2 separate regions of the Homo sapiens genome follow, and region 1 is linked to region 2. The links come from fine-mapping of genetic effects on gene expression. Tissue or cell type: subcutaneous fat. Region 2 holds a variant in brackets; the other region holds the start of a gene. All regions are shown on one strand. Distances are between the middles of the regions.

Evidence for each region. PIP is the estimated chance that this variant, and not a neighbour inherited with it, causes the effect.
Region 1: MANEA starts here. The variant in region 2 is fine-mapped to the expression of MANEA in subcutaneous fat (GTEx, PIP above 0.99). The same link has a PIP of 0.9 or more in atrial appendage, breast, liver, lung, skeletal muscle and sun-exposed skin.

The regions. Positions count from the first base shown.
Region 1 is chr6:95,571,668-95,581,001 of GRCh38, reverse strand. It overlaps MANEA (mannosidase endo-alpha), which reads right to left and starts at 3,467. Exons shown (of 5, transcript NM_024641.4): 1 at 3,364-3,467. MANEA-DT (MANEA divergent transcript) reads left to right here and starts at 3,551. Exons shown (of 3, transcript NR_104136.1): 1 at 3,551-3,909. RefSeq lists enhancers at 2,868-2,967, 2,431-3,371 and silencers at 3,168-3,227, 3,508-3,597, 3,648-3,727.
Region 2 is chr6:95,540,978-95,550,311 of GRCh38, reverse strand. No RefSeq gene overlaps it. Among named protein-coding and RNA genes, the nearest start is that of MANEA-DT, 32 kb to the left of the region's middle. RefSeq lists an enhancer at 676-1,292 and a silencer at 5,432-5,632. The variant G/A (reference allele first, on the strand shown) is at 4,907.

The DNA.
Region 1 (9,334 bases), 31 kb before region 2:
TGGCTTAGTATAAGACTAAATAAATGAGCAATTGTTTATGATGATGATTAAAGATGGGTGTCCGACAAGCAATTAAAATATAACACATTTTATTCTAAATGCCTATTCTCTATATGACCAACTATTGAAATACCAGTCACCTTCAAGTCAAAGTTGAAATGCTGCCTCTTCTTGATACCTCTCCTAATTCCACAGTGAAAAGTACTTATTCCTCATATATTTTATTGTTAACAGTATTTACTTTTTAAATTGTCATTTCTTTTTTTTTTTTTTTTTTGAGACGGCGTCTCACTCTGTTGCCCAGGCTGGAGTGCAGTGGCACTATCTCCGCTCACTGCAAGCTCCGCCTCCAGGGTTCATGCCATTCTCCTGCTTCAGCCTCCCGAGTAGCTGGGACTACAGGTGCCTGCCACCACGCCTGGCTAATTTTTTGTATTTTTAGTAGAGATGGGGTTTCACCGTGTTAGCCAGGATGGTCTCGATCTCCTGACCTCGTGATCCACCCGCCTCTGCCTCCCAAAGTGCTGGGATTACAGGTGTGAGCCACCGTGCCCGGCCAAATTGTCATTCCTTATGTATTATATCATGCTGTGCATTTATCTTTATATCACCTACTAGATTGCTCCTTAAGTTTCAGAAATGGAGTCTTTATCTTCACATTCTAGTAGAGCATAACATATCTTTCACATAGTGTTCATTAAGTGTTCAGCTTTAAAAAAGTTAATTTCTGGCTCTTTGCTGTTTCATTGGTATTCAGGCAGTGTGTGTGTATATATATATATGTATATCTGTGTGTGTGTGTATATATAGACTACTGACCGTATACACACTTGATAAGTTTACGGTGTATACTGAACATATTATAAAGAATCGTAAAGATCCAATAATTTTAAAAATCCAATTTAATAAAAAAAATCATCTTCAACGCTGTAAAACCACAATGACCCTTGAGATGCCTAAAATGTCTGATCTTGCAGGAAAGGGGTGGAGGAACTAATTTAGCTTCAATAAAAGAAAAGTATTATAAGTCACCATAGAGAAAATATTACAAGTTTATTGCAGATATATCTTTCCAAGGCAGGGACCTACTCAAAGTATTGGCTACTGAAAATCTGTTTTCTCCTCAAAAGACTGTTTACATTACTCATACACAATAGGTTCTTTTGAACCTGTAGCTTCTATTTTTTGAGTTTTGTGCTTTTAATCCTTTGAAATGCTGACTTGAAGCTTAGTGATGTCTAATAAAAAATTATTGGACATATCCAGCTAGCTAAGAGACCCCAAGAGATTCAGAAGCAGGGTGGTATGAATTAGTACTTCAAAAATTATTTGCTTTTATCATGTAACTCACAAAAGCCAAAAAGACTTCCCTTTCAATTAACTAAATTAAATCACACAGACTTCTGGTGCTTTTTTTAAAAAATATATTGTTTTCTTCTAATTTTATTTTGTATGAAGCCACCGGAGATAAATATAACTCAATACTAGAAGACACATCTGGAACTTTCAAAATCAGTTTCAAAATCAATCCTTGCCCAGGTCAGTTTTATTGTAAACACTTGTACCCTCTGGTTAACAGAAATTCAGTGAGGTTTAGTTTCTGTTTTTTGTTTTGTTTTGTTTTGTTTTTGAGATGGAGTCTCACTCTGTTGCCATGCTGAAGTGCAGTGGCGCCATCTTGGCTCACTACAACCTCCACCTCCCGGGTTCAAGCGATTCTCCTGCCTCAGCCTCCAGAGTAGCTGGGACTACAGGCGCACGCTACGACGCCCAGCTAATTTTTGTATTTTTAGTAGAGACAGGGTTTCACCATGTTGGTTGGCCAGGATGGTCTCGATCTCTTGACCTCATGATCCACCCACTTCGGCCTCCCAAAGTGCTGGGATTACAGGCGTGAGGCACCGCGCCAGGCCGCAGAATTTTTTTTAACCTCATTTTACAAATGATGAAGCTGAGCAGTTGGTAACTTTTTCAAAAATCTCTGGGCCAGCAAATGGCCAAGAAACCAATCTAAGGTTAATCACCTAGCAAGGAGCAGATCGAGTCTGGCTCAAGAACTCAAGTTCTTGTCCATGCTATTCTGCCTTCCTTTAAGGTATTAGACAAATCAAATTTAGAGGATACACCAGTTATTTTTGTGACACAAGATGAAAGCTGCTGCTATATGGTTATGTTTTCAATTAAGGATTATGTACCTAATAAACAATGATTAACTGTTACCTACTCCATAAACTGTGCCCAAACTTCATCTAAAGACAGCTTATTCTATTTTATGATCATACATTCACTATTCGTCACACGAATAACAGCAACAGCTCTGGAAATGGTGTTTTCATTGTTGTGATTTTTTGTTTTGGGGGGTGTTTTTCTGCATTGAGCCTGAAAATCCACAAATTCACAGCACTCATGTTTTTTTCAGGTGTGATACACCTGAAATAGATGTATTGTCATGAAAGTGATTTGCAAACAACGTGATACAGTATCACCAATATCTAGGTTTTACTTTATATTTTTGTTTCAAACTACTGCCTCAATACTTTAACGTGAACAGCCTATTCCAGTCCCATTTTTCTTATTTTCAAGTTCTTAATCAACATTATCCCCCCCTTGTTGTTGTTTTATAGCACTTCCACATTTTCTCCTAACACTTATCCGTAGGGTCTTACAACAACAAAACCAAACAGTTATACCTGCCTGTACTTCAAGTTGCTTCTTTGGAAAAAGGAACAACAAAAACACTAATCCAGCACTGTTGCATCCCGACTTAGCAAAGGCTAAGAGTCTAAGATGACAGTGCCAAACACGTTAACAGGTGAACTGAAAAACCATCTCTAGCGGCCTCGCCATCGGGCGGTCTCCTCCCGATGCCCAGAGGCGACAGCTACCTTTCCGTTGCACCCAGAGCCCAGCAGGCCTCGATCCTTCTACTCTCCCGGTCGGCTCAAGGCCCAGAGGCAGTCTGGGGGCACAAGGAGAAGGTGCTGAAAAAGGCTTCCATCCGACCCGAAATTTCCACCTTGTCGGGGAGACAAGGAAAATCCGAGGCGACAGGAGGTACCGTTTCAAAGAGGAGGCGGCGACGAGGCCAGTGAGGTGGGGATAAAGCAGTGTAAAAGGCAGTAAAACTAACGCAGACTAAAACAGGCCTAAGAGTGACAGCCTAGGTTAATCGAGGGGGCTACAGGCTCGCCGCTGGGCGCCACCAGCGCCTGCCAGAGGGGCGCCGGGTCAAAGGGCGCCCGGAGGAAAGCGGCCACCAGATTGGCTGGCGGGCGAGCGCGCAGGCGCCCGCGGTGGACCTCGTGCCTGCCGCCGCTGCTGGCGCCGCCGCCTCCAAGAGGTCTGACTCCTGCAGCTACTCACCAGGGTCGGGTAATTCACTTCTTGCAAGGACTCGGCCAGAGGAGAGGTTAAGACCGCGAACATAGAGCTGACTGCCGCCGCGCCCCGAGCCCAGACAGCCCCTCCTCCCCGAAGGCGCGCGCACAGCGTTCCGGGCGCTTTCAGGGGCGGGACGGGTGGGGGCGGGGTCACGGAGCGGGCGGGGCTCGGGGTCTTCCGGAGCCTCCGGTCGCGGGTCTAAGAGGACTAGGGCGGGAGCGGCGCGGAAGAAAGAGAGGACTGCGTTTTGGGGCGTTCTGTCAGAGGGGAAGGACGTGTGGATTGGAGTCAGACTGCACTCCCGCCCTATTTCTGCAAGTAGAACTCACTGCCTTTAGAAACGGTCTTCTGAGGCTCTGTTGGGAGGCTCTAACTGTATTACAGAGGACACATTTTTGTTTGTTTTTATGTGAAACATTCAGAAGTTGCTTGCATCAAGTGCTTTACAAGTACACTGGTTTTCAAACTTTTAAAGTTGAGGAACTGTTTTGATTTTTGTAAAAATAGAACTTTACTTGGAAGCCCAAGGTAGGCAGATGGAGATGGCGTTTTTAATTTGCGAATGTATTCTATAAAATCACATCTGTACTGAAGTACTAGAAATAATTGAGGATAAGTCAGATGTGAAGAGCAAGAACTTTTGAAATAGGATTACAACTGAAGGTTTCCATCTTACATTAGCTTCAGAAAACAAGAAAATGCTATCTTTTGTTTGGTTACATAGTAACAGGAAGTCCTTATTCAAGCTAGAACTTGCTGATGTGAACAGTTTCATAAGGGCTCTCCTTAAAAAGATTTTGTACACCAATTTTAATTGGGAAATATACATATGAGTATATCTCATGTGCATATCTTAAAGAAGAATGAAAAATGCCCAGGTACCCACTACAGAGCTTAAGAAAAAAAAAATGCCAGTATTTTTGGAGTCTTCTAGAAAGAAGACTCTCTAAAAACATCTCCTTCCTTCCGTTCACCATTATGCTGAATTTTATATTACTCATTCCGTTGTATTTCTGAAAATAGTTACATATGTACGATTCCCTAAAAATACTATTTTCCTAGTTTTATATTTCATATGTGAATCATTCTTCATTTTTCCCCTTTTTTCACTAATTTAGGTTTTGAGAGGTTTTGAGATTCGTCTGTATACAAGTCCATTTCCCATAAACTAGACTGGCACATCGTTACCCTTATGCTATTGTTAGACTTTTTAAGTTTTTGCTGATAAGAGCATCTGATTGCTCTTTTAATTTGCATTTTCCCTTTTGCTAAAGCCTGTTCTTAATTTTATCTCATTTTTTATTAAATTGCTTGCTTTTGAAAATTATTTTGTAGATAATATTTATTTTTTCTAGTTTAATTCTCTCTTGTAAGTTACATGTGTTGCAAATGTCTTCTCTTAGTTTATGGACTGTCTTTCCAGTTTTTATGATGTTTCTTGATTGCCAAAAGCTTTATGCTTCAGTATACAGCTTTTTGAATTTAATAATATTTTACATTTTAATTTTGTGCTTTTTGCTTTCTTGCTTACAAGATTCTTCCCAACATAACATCAGAAACTATTCTTTCTTCTACAAGTTTAAAAGTTTAATTGTAGCAACTTTAAACACAGAAAGGACAAATAATAATATAATGAACACCCATGCACTCAACTCTATGTATTAAAACATTTTGCAAACCCCTCCTCCTAATGATTCTTGTCTAAAATTGCCTTAACTATACTTGGCTCTTTACTCTTTCATTGAAATTTTAGGATGAGCCAGCCAAGATCCATTTAAAAAATTGGATTTCAATTGGGCATTTTATTCAACTTGAGAATTGCATTTAGAGATTTAGTGAAATGTCTTCTTATCTATGAACATGGTATATTTATTTTATTCAGGTACTTTATGTGCTACTATGCTTTGTAATTTATTGAGTATCTTTCATTATATTGCCTCCTAGTTTTATTACTAAAATTAGAGATCTCTCTCTTTAAACTCTATTTTCTAATTGTTTAGTAACATTGTATTAAAAGAGCATCAATTTCAATATATTGGTACTATCTCCAGAAGCTTCGCTGAATTTTTTTGATTGCTTGCTTTATTTCCCTGTTACATCTTTGGATGACCTATATAGGTAATCATATCATTTGTAAATAAGAATAATGGTTTCCTTCTTTCTCTCTTTTCAAACCACTTATTATTCAGTTTTTTCTTTTATTTATTAACAGAGCATCCAGTGCAATGTTTAATGGAAGTAATAATGGCATTCTTGTCCCATTCCTCACTTTACTGCAATACTGCTAACATTTTATAATGATAACAATGTTTGCTGTGGGTTTTTGGTAAATACTTTATCAAGATTATTAAGTGTTCTGTTTCCAGTTCATAATGTATTGTTGTTTGCTTTTTTTTAACCATGAGTGACAGTTTAATTGATTAAATGCTTTTTCTGCACCTATTGAGATAATCATTGTTTCCTATTCTAATATATTTATGGGAATGATTAATACATTTTCTGATGTCAAATGAGAGGGAGAGGATTTTATTTTATAAATATGTTAATGCATGCTCACTTGCTTAAAAACTGGGTACTTTATGACTGCCAGTGTAAATAAATTAGGCAAGTAGATTCTCATTGCATCACACTCTATTCATTGCACAATGGTGTTTATAAACTGGATTAGAATTGCTGCTAGTGCCTCATCTTGTAACTCTGACTGCTCTACCTATCCCCTGCTATTGTCAGGGAATGTTGAGATGGCAATGATAGAAATAATGTTGTTAATATTCTTTTTTTCTTTCACATCACTTTTTTTCACAGTGTTTTTATGTAGAATTTTTTTTTTTTACTTGACATCACTGGAAAGTCAGCAATGTTTTGTTGTAATTATCACATATAGAATGTTATTACATTCTGAATCTTGATTTTGTTTTCAAATATGGGATGGCCATAATAACTGCCACATCCAATTTTTTTATCTCTCATATATACATATAGATTTAATTAGTTCAATAATTTCCTGAATGTAAACAATGTAGAATTTAGTAAATTAATAAGCACTGATGGGAAAGGTCTCCAAGATAAATGAGCAAGTGATTAGTATGTTAATACTTACAAGAGAAATTCACATTATATTAATATAAATTTTAAATATATATGTGCATGTATGATATATAAAAATATCTGAAAGGATATATGCATTGTTACCTATAGGGATGTAACAGAAGGGGAATGAAGGAGAATTTTCTTTTTTACTCTCTGTAGTGCTGTTTTCTTTTTTAATGTGAGCCCATATTTATGTATTTTTTAATTAAAAATACAGCACCAGAAGAATATGCCATTTATCTAATAGATGGTTTCTTGGAAAGAAAAAGAGCTGCATATAAATTCATTTGTGTAGTAAATAGACATTTTAAATGTGTTGCATCAGGGGTAATCAGTCACTGAGAGTCCAAAGACAAAAATGATCCAAAGAAGGAAGAATGGAGAAAAAAAAAATCCCCCATTTTTTTTTCTTTTTTGTCAAATTCTTGTATGGAAAGATTCTAACACAATAAACTAATAGTAGCCTTTGGTTTATCCTAATTAGCATTTATTAAAATCATAGTCCCCACCCCACAAGATCCTTCAGGTTAATCCTATCTTGCTACTAGAAAAGCGGCAGCCATTTATCTTATCTTTTGGCATCAGCATTGAAGAGTCTTCTTTGTATTTCCCAGACCTAAGCAGTTACACCTTCAACCATCTTTTTCTTGCCTCTATTTCAATGGGCCCTATTGTTTGTCTCCTGATTATTTCATGTCTATTTTTCCCTGTCCTAGAAGTTTCATTAGTATTTCCTAGCCATATGCCATTTATACCTTTGCTCATTACTCCTGTCACTGAAGATGAGAAATCAATTTCTGTCCATATCCTCTCCACTTACATTAATCAGAGATATATTTTGTAAGCAATAGAAATTGAATCTGGCAAACCTGAAAACAAATAGACTATGTAAAAAGTTACAGAATTTAGCATGAAGATGAAGGCTAGTACATTAGGTAATGGCAATGGATAGGAAACAAGAGGGGCTAGGAAATTGGGAACACAGCCTCATATAACAGTACAGATTAGGGCACTGCTGCTTTCAGGGCTGCACTGATCTCAAAGCTGCTGACACCACTATGAGTGACTTCTCAACTCTGTGTTGTCTACCTCGTTGCTTCAAGATTCAAATTTTGGATTGAGATCATTTGATTAGCTTACTCTAGGCTGTATGTCTTTTCCTCCTTAGCCTCCTTGAAGTAGAGCCCAGAACTTTTGGCTTTAATGGGAAATTGGGCACAAAACACAGAATACATTATTCTTCCAAAACCTGAAGGATTTTTAGATTCTAAGTAGTAACAAAATAAAATAAACTAAATCCCCAAACAATAGTCCAATTATCCATCACAGTATGCTTCACTGTCCATATAAAGTCTACTTTCTCCCTTACTATTTTATACTTACTGTTTTATTCTTTTAATCCCTATACATTTATAGGGAGTAATATGAAACAGCAATAATTTCTTAATTAACTAAATTGTTCTGTTCTTTTTATCATATCTGGTATCTGTGAAGGTGTAACTAAGGTATTCCTTGACACAGTTTGGGATGCAAAGAATGTAACTCCAATAGTGCCATGAGTAAAACACTAAAGTTTCCACCAATTTATAGCAGTAGATAATTCAGAGAGCCAAACTCATTGTTTCCCCTAATGCTCTGATCCTTTCACTGTACCTACCAGCATCCTGACAGCAAGGAATCCATTCTAACTCTATCCCACATAAATTCACGAACTATTATCAGACCAAGGAAAAAACTTGCCTTGGTAGGTCATGATTAAAATTCACTGGCCTCGTAGTGGTCACAGGTTTTAGGGTGACTTCTTGATGCATTAGATAAGGCTCTTCTAAGAATTGATGTACATAACCCAGAATTAAACTCAGTGTAGGTAACTTCTAACTAAACAGGCCAAGCCCCTTTGGTGAAAGTTTTTCTCATTCTCTGATCCAAGTACTTGCCCAGGTGATGGCCCTCCTGAGTGACAGAGATGGGAGAGCGTTCTGCCTTCCCAAATAAAGAAGGCAGAAAGTTCACCTCTGGTTGAATGGTGCTGTTAAATGCTAATGCATTGATTGACTATATATGGAACATTTCTCCTTAAGGAAACCCTATCCTGAAGGAAACCCTATTCTGCAAACAGGCATGGTGGCAGCTAAGGGAGATGCATGTCTTTAGTGGAAACCAGAGCCAGCAGGGAGATGTAGCACTTCCTGAGTTCGGAAATGACTCCACCAGTTGATATAGGGCCTCTCAGTGTGTTGAAGGAAGGAAGTCCTATGTTTTATGATTGAGCATTAGTGTCATACTACAATCAGCCACTCCCCAAATGTTGCATCACTGAAACTCCAGGTTTCACAGAGAATTTCCTAAGGTATTAGGTTTGAGTTTCTTCCTTCGTGGGATGCTATGGATTCTTTAACCAAACCAACCTAATCTTTCTCCTGCCATAGTACCACCTTCTCCTGCCATGCAAAAAGAAGCAGTTTGCAAAAGTCAGTAAAAGAAAAAAAAAATGCCTTGTTATTTCTCAAAATGATGGGCTCACTTGTCTTCTATTTATATAAGAGAGACCACAGTAATTATTCTCAACAGTATCAGCTACAAGGTGATTTTCTGTGCCTGCGTATTCTAAGAAGTAGCTGGCAATTTCTCTTGTTAAAAGAGAAAAAGAAAAAAACATGCACTTACTCGCTGATAAACATTTTTCTGTTAGAGAACCCAATTAAATAGCAGGCCTGTGTTGTGTACGTCTTTTATACACCCTGTAATGCCAGGTTCCATGAAGGCAGTTCCAGAGATAGTCTAATTCAGAGCTGGGGCTCCAACTCCCAACACATAGTAGGTGCTTGTAGTAGGATGATAATAATTCCCAAAGATACAGAGG
Region 2 (9,334 bases):
AAATTGATCATTGGAATTTATTTTTAACTTTTATGTATCTGTAAAATTTTAAAATAAGATATATATTATATGAAGCGTTAGCAATAAAGGTGAGAACATTGTATTCCATAAGGATCCAGATAAGAAAAAGACAGTAAAGAAGCGTTTTTTAAGTTAAAATTGAAAGGGCAAATGAACAAAGTTTTCAGATATAACAACTTAAAAGTTTTGAATTTGAATGGGTTAAACTGTTCTATTAAAGATCAGTCCAATTATATGTGGTTTCCAAGGGACGTACCTAAGGGAATATGACCTAGAGAGGTAAAAAAAAGGAAGAAAAGAAAAATAGAAAAAGAGACTGGCATAGATACATCATCTAAAGGCAAACAAAAGAAAGATCATAACATTAAAATCAGCTGTATCAGATTTTGAGGCAAAGAAGTCATCATAAATTATAAAAGACTTCAGTTTTATGTTTAAAAATGATATATCCACAATGAAGATATTAGAATCATAAACCTTTATATGAAAAATAACATAGCTACAAAATACTTAAAGTAAAAGCTGTGCTATACAATTTTACAAAATGAAGTTAGAAAAGAAAAAAATTTAGCTTTGAAGAAACATCTCCCAGGTTTTGAATACTCATGTAAGAAAAAAGTAAAAAAGTAAAGGCTATATACTATTCTAATTTATAGATTTTTAAAATAAAGAGATCAAGTATATTCCAAATAAACAGAATATACACTTTATTTTAAAAGCCAATGGATCTTTTGTAAAAACTGGTCATCTAATAGGCCAGAAAAATGTTAAATCAGTTACAAAAAGAAAAGCTGAAGTTGTACACGCCATGTTATTAGATCACAATACAAAATAGCCATTAATAGCTAAAGTTAAAAAGTAATTATTTGGAAATAAACAATGCATGACTCATTAACACAGATCAAAGGGGATTACAGATTCTTTACAAAGCAATACAAATGACAATACTTCATTAAATATTTGGTAGAAGCTTTATGCGCATAAACTATCTGACTCAAAATCAGAGAGGTGGAATGTATTAGCAATAGGTAGATAGTGAATAAGACAATGACAGTGCATCTATAATGTTTATAACAAATACCATGTGTGGATATACTTTTTATCATGGAGATTAAACAGATTTTTAAAAAATGAAAATTTGCATTAATATAGTAAATATAGCACCCACTCGACCACCAAATCTCGTGCAGAGAGTTTTTAAATGCTTTCAATACAAAAAGAAGAAATAAAAGACATACGTACAAATAAAACCCCAACAGAAATAAATTAATCATTCAAACAACCTAGTCAGTTTAAAATGTAGGTTTCATTATTATTCAGGTATTGTGACGCCAAAAATCAGGAGACACTGGCCATTGTATAGACAGTTTGTTCCCAAGAGGAAGGGGTATGCCATGCCACACAAGGCCATGCTGGGAAGCACCAGATTCAGTCAGGAGGCAGAAGGATTTGAGGGGTGATGGAGAGCGTGAGCAAGAGCCTTTATTTTGGTTTCTGCAGCAAGGTAAACAGGTTTAGAATTGGCTTGTTTAAATAATCCCAGCAGACTCTGGGGTATAGGAACTGTCCCTAGTTGTCTAGTATTTGACTCTGGAGTGATTAGGGCAGCGCATAGTGGCCCTGAGTGTGACAGCCTCCTAGAGGAGGTTGTGGGGTGTGAAAGCTCTGCATTGTTGGTTTGCATATGAATCTCACAGTCCTGGGCCAGTCATTTACTATGTAGGATATGGCTACATAGGAGCCAGGAGATGGCTAGTCCTGGAAGGGGTAGGCTTTCCAGGATCAGCAAAACCCTGAGATGTCAAAGCATCAGAATTGCAGGAAATGGAAAGGCATGACTTCATACACTGTTGAACCCAGCAGGTGGTTGAAAGCAGGGTTCCCCCTGCGTCAGGGACCCATCTGGCTGTGTTTCTTTATCTCCCTTCCATAATCATGACAGATGCTGTGACACACTGATACATTCCTAGTTAGGAATAAAGAACTTATTACCAGAGCTGCTGTAAGTGCTGTCAGTAGACAAGTCTCAGCTGAAGAGTTTCCTAGTCCGCATCACTCTTCCTTCCTAGGTGGGCCTCCATCCAATGATTAATCTGTGTAGGACAGGGTTTCTCAATTTAACATTTTGAACAGGATAATTTCTTGTGGTGAGGGCCAATCATGTGCATTGTAGGATGTTTAGCAAATTCCCTGCCCCACCCCCCAGACTAGATACTATTAGCACCCACCCCAGTTATGACAAACAAAATGTCTTCAAACACTGCCAAATGTCTCCTAGGGGGCAAAATCACCTATGGCTCATAATTAATGATGTAATTGATTACATATATTACATTAATAATTACATATATTCAATGACATGTAAATACTTTCAGATTTATATTCCAGCCCAGATCTCTTACCTAAGCTTCAGCCTCTGTATAGCTCACTCCCTATTGCCCATGACATTTTATCAAAAGACTTTACATATTTTATGCTTAAGAATATGAATTTTAGAAGTGGCTGCTTAAGTAAACATCTCATTTACTAGCTTTGTAACATTGAGGTTCTACTAAGCTTTTGTTTCCCTCAGTTTTCTTTCCTCATCTATAAAATGGACACAATAATAGGATCTGCCTCATAGGTTTGTTGTGAGAATCAAATTAATGCATGTAAATACTTCAGAACAATTCCTGGCATATTGCTAGTTTTCAATAATGCTAGCTATTACTATTAGTCAAGTGGTGTCTTGCAGGTACGAAATGCAGTGTGTTCAAGTCCATCTAAATTCCTGATCTGCCAACCCTGGTCATTTTTCTGTATTTAGTATTTCACTAAATGACACCACCAATCACTTACTCAAGCCAGGTGCTTAATCAATGTTACTATTGATTTTTCCATCTCCTTCAGCAACTGCCTCAATCACAAAATCATATTGAATCTGTATTCTTAGAACTGGTTGAATTTGTCAATTGTCTTCATCTCAATTGTCACTATTTTCATTAAAACGTGCTTCTTATTACAAGAACTATTGAAGAAATTGAGAACATGGACTCTGGAGTCACAGAGACTTCAGAATTAGGTTTAAAGTCCAATTCTACCAGCATCATGATATTAAGTAAATGACATTTTCTCTCTTTATCCATTACTCTATTTGTTTAAAACAAACAAACAAAAACAAAACAAAACAAAAGTGATAATGCTTGCATTAAAGAAATGCAAAGAATATTATAAGGAGCACTCTTTGTGTTACCCTAACTTGAAATAAAACAAATAACCATTAATAAGAGACTGAATTAAATAAATTGTGACATTTTTATATAATAGAATACTGCATAGTAATGAAAAGCAAATGGCCACTGCACAATCTTAGAGAATGTTGAGCAAAAAAAAAAATCAAAAACACACAAATCAGTAGGTAGTATTTATAAAAAATTTGAAATAGGAAAGACCCAACTGTATTGTTTAGCAATGTGTACTTAGTGATAAAACTGAAACAATATGTAGTTGTGATTATTATAAAAGTTAAAGACAGGCACAAGACTAAGGAATATTGAGGAGTCTTAGTTTGGGAAGTAACAGCCTGGAGGCTTTGGAGGTGATGACAGTGTTCAGTTTCTCAATCTGGGGGATGGATGCATGATGATTTATATATACATACTATATTTTACTGTATTTAATATTTTGTGCACCTTTCTGTTTGTGTTGTGTTTCATAAATTAGAAATGGTTAGACAAAAGGATAGTGGTAAATGAAAACAATATATAAATACAGATATTTTAAAAAGGTGATTAACACATCACCTTTAACCACATATATAGATACATACATACATACATATGTATGTATAAAGCTTTTGTGAATGAAGAGTTACTATTAAGCCTGCATATCAAGACTGCTTCAGAAAGATCTTAGATTCTCATAGGACTGTTTCCATGGAAACAGTAGTTTTAAGACAAATGAGGAATGTTTTGACTGGCTCATTTGTTTTGCGGAACACAACATCTGCCTCAGGTTAGAGGGGCTGTGAGTTTTCATGCACATGGGCTTTGAGCCTGTGGGATAACTATGGTATAAAAAGTTGGTGGGAAATAGAGGCTGTAGCTTCCATGTTTCAAGGTTGCACACACATCTTGGCAATCATTTGTGGCAGCCATGCATACATATGTGTGTGAGGATGTAAAGGAAATCTTTTTTTTTTTTTTTACTACTTTTTTGTACTTGGGTAGCTGCTGAGATGAGGTGATGATGAGATGAAGATGGTACACCTGTTTCATGTATTGCCTATTTCCTTCTATAATGCTAAGTAAACAGTATTATATTAAAGCTTGCCTGTGTCTCCTGACTCAGCTTGCTAGCCGAAGACAAATGCTGTGCTAGACAATGGTGTCAGAAGTAGCCTTGGCTTTCAGGCCCTTGAGTCAAATCATTGTGATGCAGGAAATAGGACAGGATAGGGTTGGGGAGCAGATTTTGATGAACATTTCATGCCTGGATGGCTGAGTTACCTAGATTTATCTCCTAGGAAACCGTTAAAATGGATAGTCAAAGAAAGGCAAGGGGAGGGGGCAGTTAAAGATATAAGAAAAGGGTGAATCAGATACAGCTGTCATTAGGTGGCTGTTAAGACACAGGATGAAAAGATAAGAAATTTATTGTTAAGACACAAGATGAAAAGATAAGAAATTTATTGAATTATCTGAAAAGATTTACTGGCTCATTATCACCAGTTGGGAAAAGGAACATTTGCTCCGTATCTGCCAGCTGCCTTCCTTAATGAATCCCATGAGATATGATCCCTTTAAGCCAATCTGTGTGAGTTTAACCCAGATTAGTCAGTCCTTTCTCTGGGAATAATCTGGCCTAGGGCCACTAGAAGCATTTCACAAACAGTAAAGAACAAATT[G/A]TCCTGACTCGTTTTTACTAGTAAAAGAGGCACAAAGGCTCAAAGGGCTGTTTGGATTCTGGAGGACACATACGTTGGCCCCAGTATACAAAGAGACTAGAAAAAGAAATGGATTTGAATGAGATCCAGAGAAGAAGGCAAGTCAAGCTGTCCCTTTGGTATTATGTTTTATAAACCTGACATTACCAGTAGTTTTAGAGAAGTCCACTACTAAAAAATCCAATGATGCTGTAAGAACAAAAGTTGTGAATAAACTTTGTGCTAAGAAAAGTGCTGAATAAAAAGTGTGCTAAATAAACACCATTGGTAGAAACAGTAGAAACCAATAAAGATTAACTTGAAGGCTAGGATATTTTGTCCTATCCCACAGATCAGTTCAAAGACCATGTGCTTTGGTTAAAGTCGAATATCCTAGGGTTGGTGAACAAAACATTTTGAGACAATTGAATATCGGTACATAAAGTACTATAATACATGTAGGGAGCAAAAACACAATGTTAAGAAGCCAAAGAGGAAGCTAAGGGCTGGGGTGGGAAGGAGATACTGTGAGGGAAGACTCCAAGGCCCTAGTAGAGCACCAGAGAGGAACATGATAAGGAAATAGTGGAAATAGATAAGAATAGTGCTGCTATTCTCTGCTTGAATGAATAACTGGAAAGGTTATGAAGCAAAAGCAGAAGGTCTTGCCCTTCTTAGTGGTCTATAGCTGAATGCTAGGGATTTGCCCTTTGCCAGGTTTTTATCAGATCTGTTAAGTGGGAGGCTTTACAATTGCCCTTTTCTGTAGTAAATACTAAACTGCATCATTTTCCAGGAAAGTAGCAGGAAATCTCAGTCATGATTAAAGAGGTCGTGGAAACAGTTGTGCTCATCCCCATCAATTCTCTTCACGTTAGTCCTGTCTGTCCTGTGAGAAAATGCAGAATTAAGTGAAACAATTTTCCCCAAAGTCTCTGTTATGCCAGACATGATTAAAAACTACCAGGAGGTTCGGCAGGGAATGTGCTTTGATAATAGAATCTGGAAAAAATGCCAAGCATCATTTTTATCTGCATGAGAGATATTTCATTACATATACTTTACTATCTTCCTCTAAGGTTATGCACATTCTCCAGGATTTAGCTACTGCCCTATAAGACAAGATTTGAGTCTCTTCATTTCTGAAAGCCCATTGATTCATGAAGCTGATGATACGATGATACCTCCCCTCTCAGAAAGTAAGCTGAGAATGGAGGCAAGGAGGATTTACAAACAATAGCTGCAATAGGACTAGATAAGGATGTCTAAAAAATCTGATTAAGATTCAGGACCCAGATTGGTCAGTCTTTTCTCTAGGAATACTCTGGCCACTAGAGGCACTTCACACACAGTAAAGAACAAATTGTCCTGACCCATTTTTACTAGCAAGAGAGGCACAAACTCTCAAAGAGTTGTTTGGATTCTAGGACACATATGCCATATTTGGAAATCCTGTTGGCCCCGATATACAAAGTGACTAGAAAAAGCAATGGATTTGAATGATATCCAGAGCAGAGGGTAGGCCAAGCTGTCTTTTTGGGATTTTATAATCCTGATACAACCAGCAGTTTTAGAGAAGTCCACTACTAAAATACACATAGACTGGAGTCCCTAGCCAAAGCCTTAGAATGCTACTTATAGGTGGTTGCAGGAGTTCTGGACTAAAAAAAATTCATGATATTGTGTCTGAGAACAGCCTATTTGAGATACAGGCATTAGCATGCTTTTTGGCTCTAGTAAGAAACAGCCCTCATACCCAAAGAGCATCAGATTACATTGCATTACCTATGGTGACTTGAGGCTTGAGTTATCTACAGTCTCATGGGTGATATAAAAAGAGATTCCAATAGAAAGGGAGTTGTACAACAAGTTCCCTGGTAAAATATGAATGATATATGATACAGTTTGGCTGTATCCCCACACAAATCCCATCTTGAATTGTGGCTCCCATAACTTCCACATACTTTCTCATAATTTCTACATGTCGTGGGAGGGACCCAGTGGGAGATAACTGAATCATGATAGCAGTTTCCCTATGCTATTCTCATGATAGTAAGTTCTTATAGATCTGGTGGTTTTATAAGGGACTTCCCTCTTCACTTGGCTCTCATTCTTCTCCTTCCTGCCACCATGATTTTAAGTTTCCTGATGCCTTGTCAGCCATGCTGAAAAATTAAACCTCTTTTCTTTATAAATTATCCAGTCTTGGGTGTGTCTTTATTAGCAGTGTGAGAACGGACTGATAAAATATATTTGGGAACATGCTAAAAAAGATAGACTCTGAGGAAATGCACTCTATCCATGAGCAGGTAACATCTCTGCCTCTACAGTGGCACTCTGGAGGAGCTACCCACTCTTATTGCCAAAGGTTCTGAACCCTGCTGAGACAAAATATCTGACTTATTTGCTAATGAGAGTCCTTGCACTGAATGATGGGACTCTATATGGAAGGCTACAGCTAACCTCCAATGTACTGTAAAAATCTGAGCTGAAGACACAATGATAAGCATACACAGTGGCCTGAATAGAGGTCAGTATATGTTATATGTTAATGGTTCAGGAAGAACTTGGTTCTTGGCCTCAGGCTTGTGTCTAAATATTAAAGCCTCCTGGGCTTTCCCTAGGACTGTGTTGCAGTGTCAGACAGGCAAATGCTTCCTTGATACATAGATACACAAGATTATCTTCATGTGAAGAGATGCAATTGTGGAAGTCTTTATGGAAACTCCTGGGGAGAAGCACATTTCTAGATGCCTACAAAGAACAGCCAGTAGTGTCTCAGAGGAGCGCTAGAAAGCCAAAGTAGATGCCCTGGTCTCCCAAAGGAGAAAATCAGTTGAGTGTATGAGATGAGCTGTCACAGTGGTGCTCAAGCCATGCCACGACAATTGGAAGCAATGGCATAGACCAGTGCTACCCAGAAAAGCCATTACTATTGTGACAGGCTGTCCTGAATGCGATCAAGAAGAAAAAAAAGTCCAAAAATGGCACTGGAGAGAATTCCCTGAGGTCAATGGCAAGCACATCACTGGCAGATGGATTATACTGAACCCAGTTCATTACTCCTGGAGTATTCCAATGAGTCTTTCTGGGGATAGATGAGTGTTTTGAGTCCCCCCACTATATTTCATAGGGAATGAATTTCACCATGGCCAAGTTTCCAAAATGAGACAAAAAGAACCATATGTAATGGACATATACTCCTACCAGCCACATAGGAGTGGCTTAATTAAAAATTGGAATAGTCAACTAAAACATTCATTTTGAAAGACAGAGGATGCTAAGGAAGTGAAGGATAAGAAGGGCTGGCTGGGAAGCTTATAAGGGGGTATGTGCTTCACCTAAACATGGGAGACATTGAGGGCGGAACAGCCTTAAGAAAGCTTTTTGTGTACCAGGAATAAAGGGTTGGGAAATGATACTGTGACATAAATCTTCGTCTTTCATACCTTACAAACCTTTCCTTTTCTGTTATCAGATCAAGTGCATTAGACAAACATTGCATTTGCCCTTCTTCCAACGAAAGGGAGCATACTACTTAAGATACTTTATTCCTTTGCACTTGGGTATATGTTTTCCTAAGGACATGTAGACAGTTATTTTGCCCAGTGTGACCAAGGTAGGACTGACCCTAAGTGCTGCTTTATTGCCTAGTGGTAGAGGAGGACCTGTTATCTTTTACCTTTGCAAACCTATCATCTATTTATAAGAGTGGGAAAAGGATTTGGTGAGGCTTTATTTTTATCTGGAGGGAAGAAAAGTCATTTGGGACATTATCCTGTACAAAACCTATGGGAGAGGGCCTGTATGCTCATCCAGGAAGTGCTCTCTGCTACACTTTATTTCTATTGTGTTTAAAGGAAAATGCCTGAGTGCTTTAGAAGTCCAAGCCGGACAGATGCAATATTAAAATGGTAAGGACCACCTGAACTATAGCAGGATGTCACTGGAACAAGTGATCCTGTTATCGTTCCCTTACAATATATACACCATGAATTTAAAAAGAGCCAGCATTTCCTGTGATGCAGTTAGTGGCCATCAAAAGACCAACACTGTGTCCTCTCTATAGGGTGAATTGGTTGTGCTCTACTTTTATATGTGGGAACCAGTGTCAATAAAATCCTGCTTCTTCATAGCAGAGGTATGATTAGGCCCCCAGGACAGAAAGAATTCTGGATTTACTGAATATTCTAGTGACTATTCCTGTCATTGAAAATGTATGGCATATGGGCAAGAGATAGTTCTGTTGGGAAGGATGAGGAAATTATACTGTAATAAAAATAAGTGTTTGGTGTGCTATGTATTACTTTAATATCTGCTGCTATCTGCTGTAATGTTAACAAGTAGTTTGTGTGCTAAGCATTACTTTAATCTCTCATCTACTGCTATTTGGTATAATAAAGTATTTTA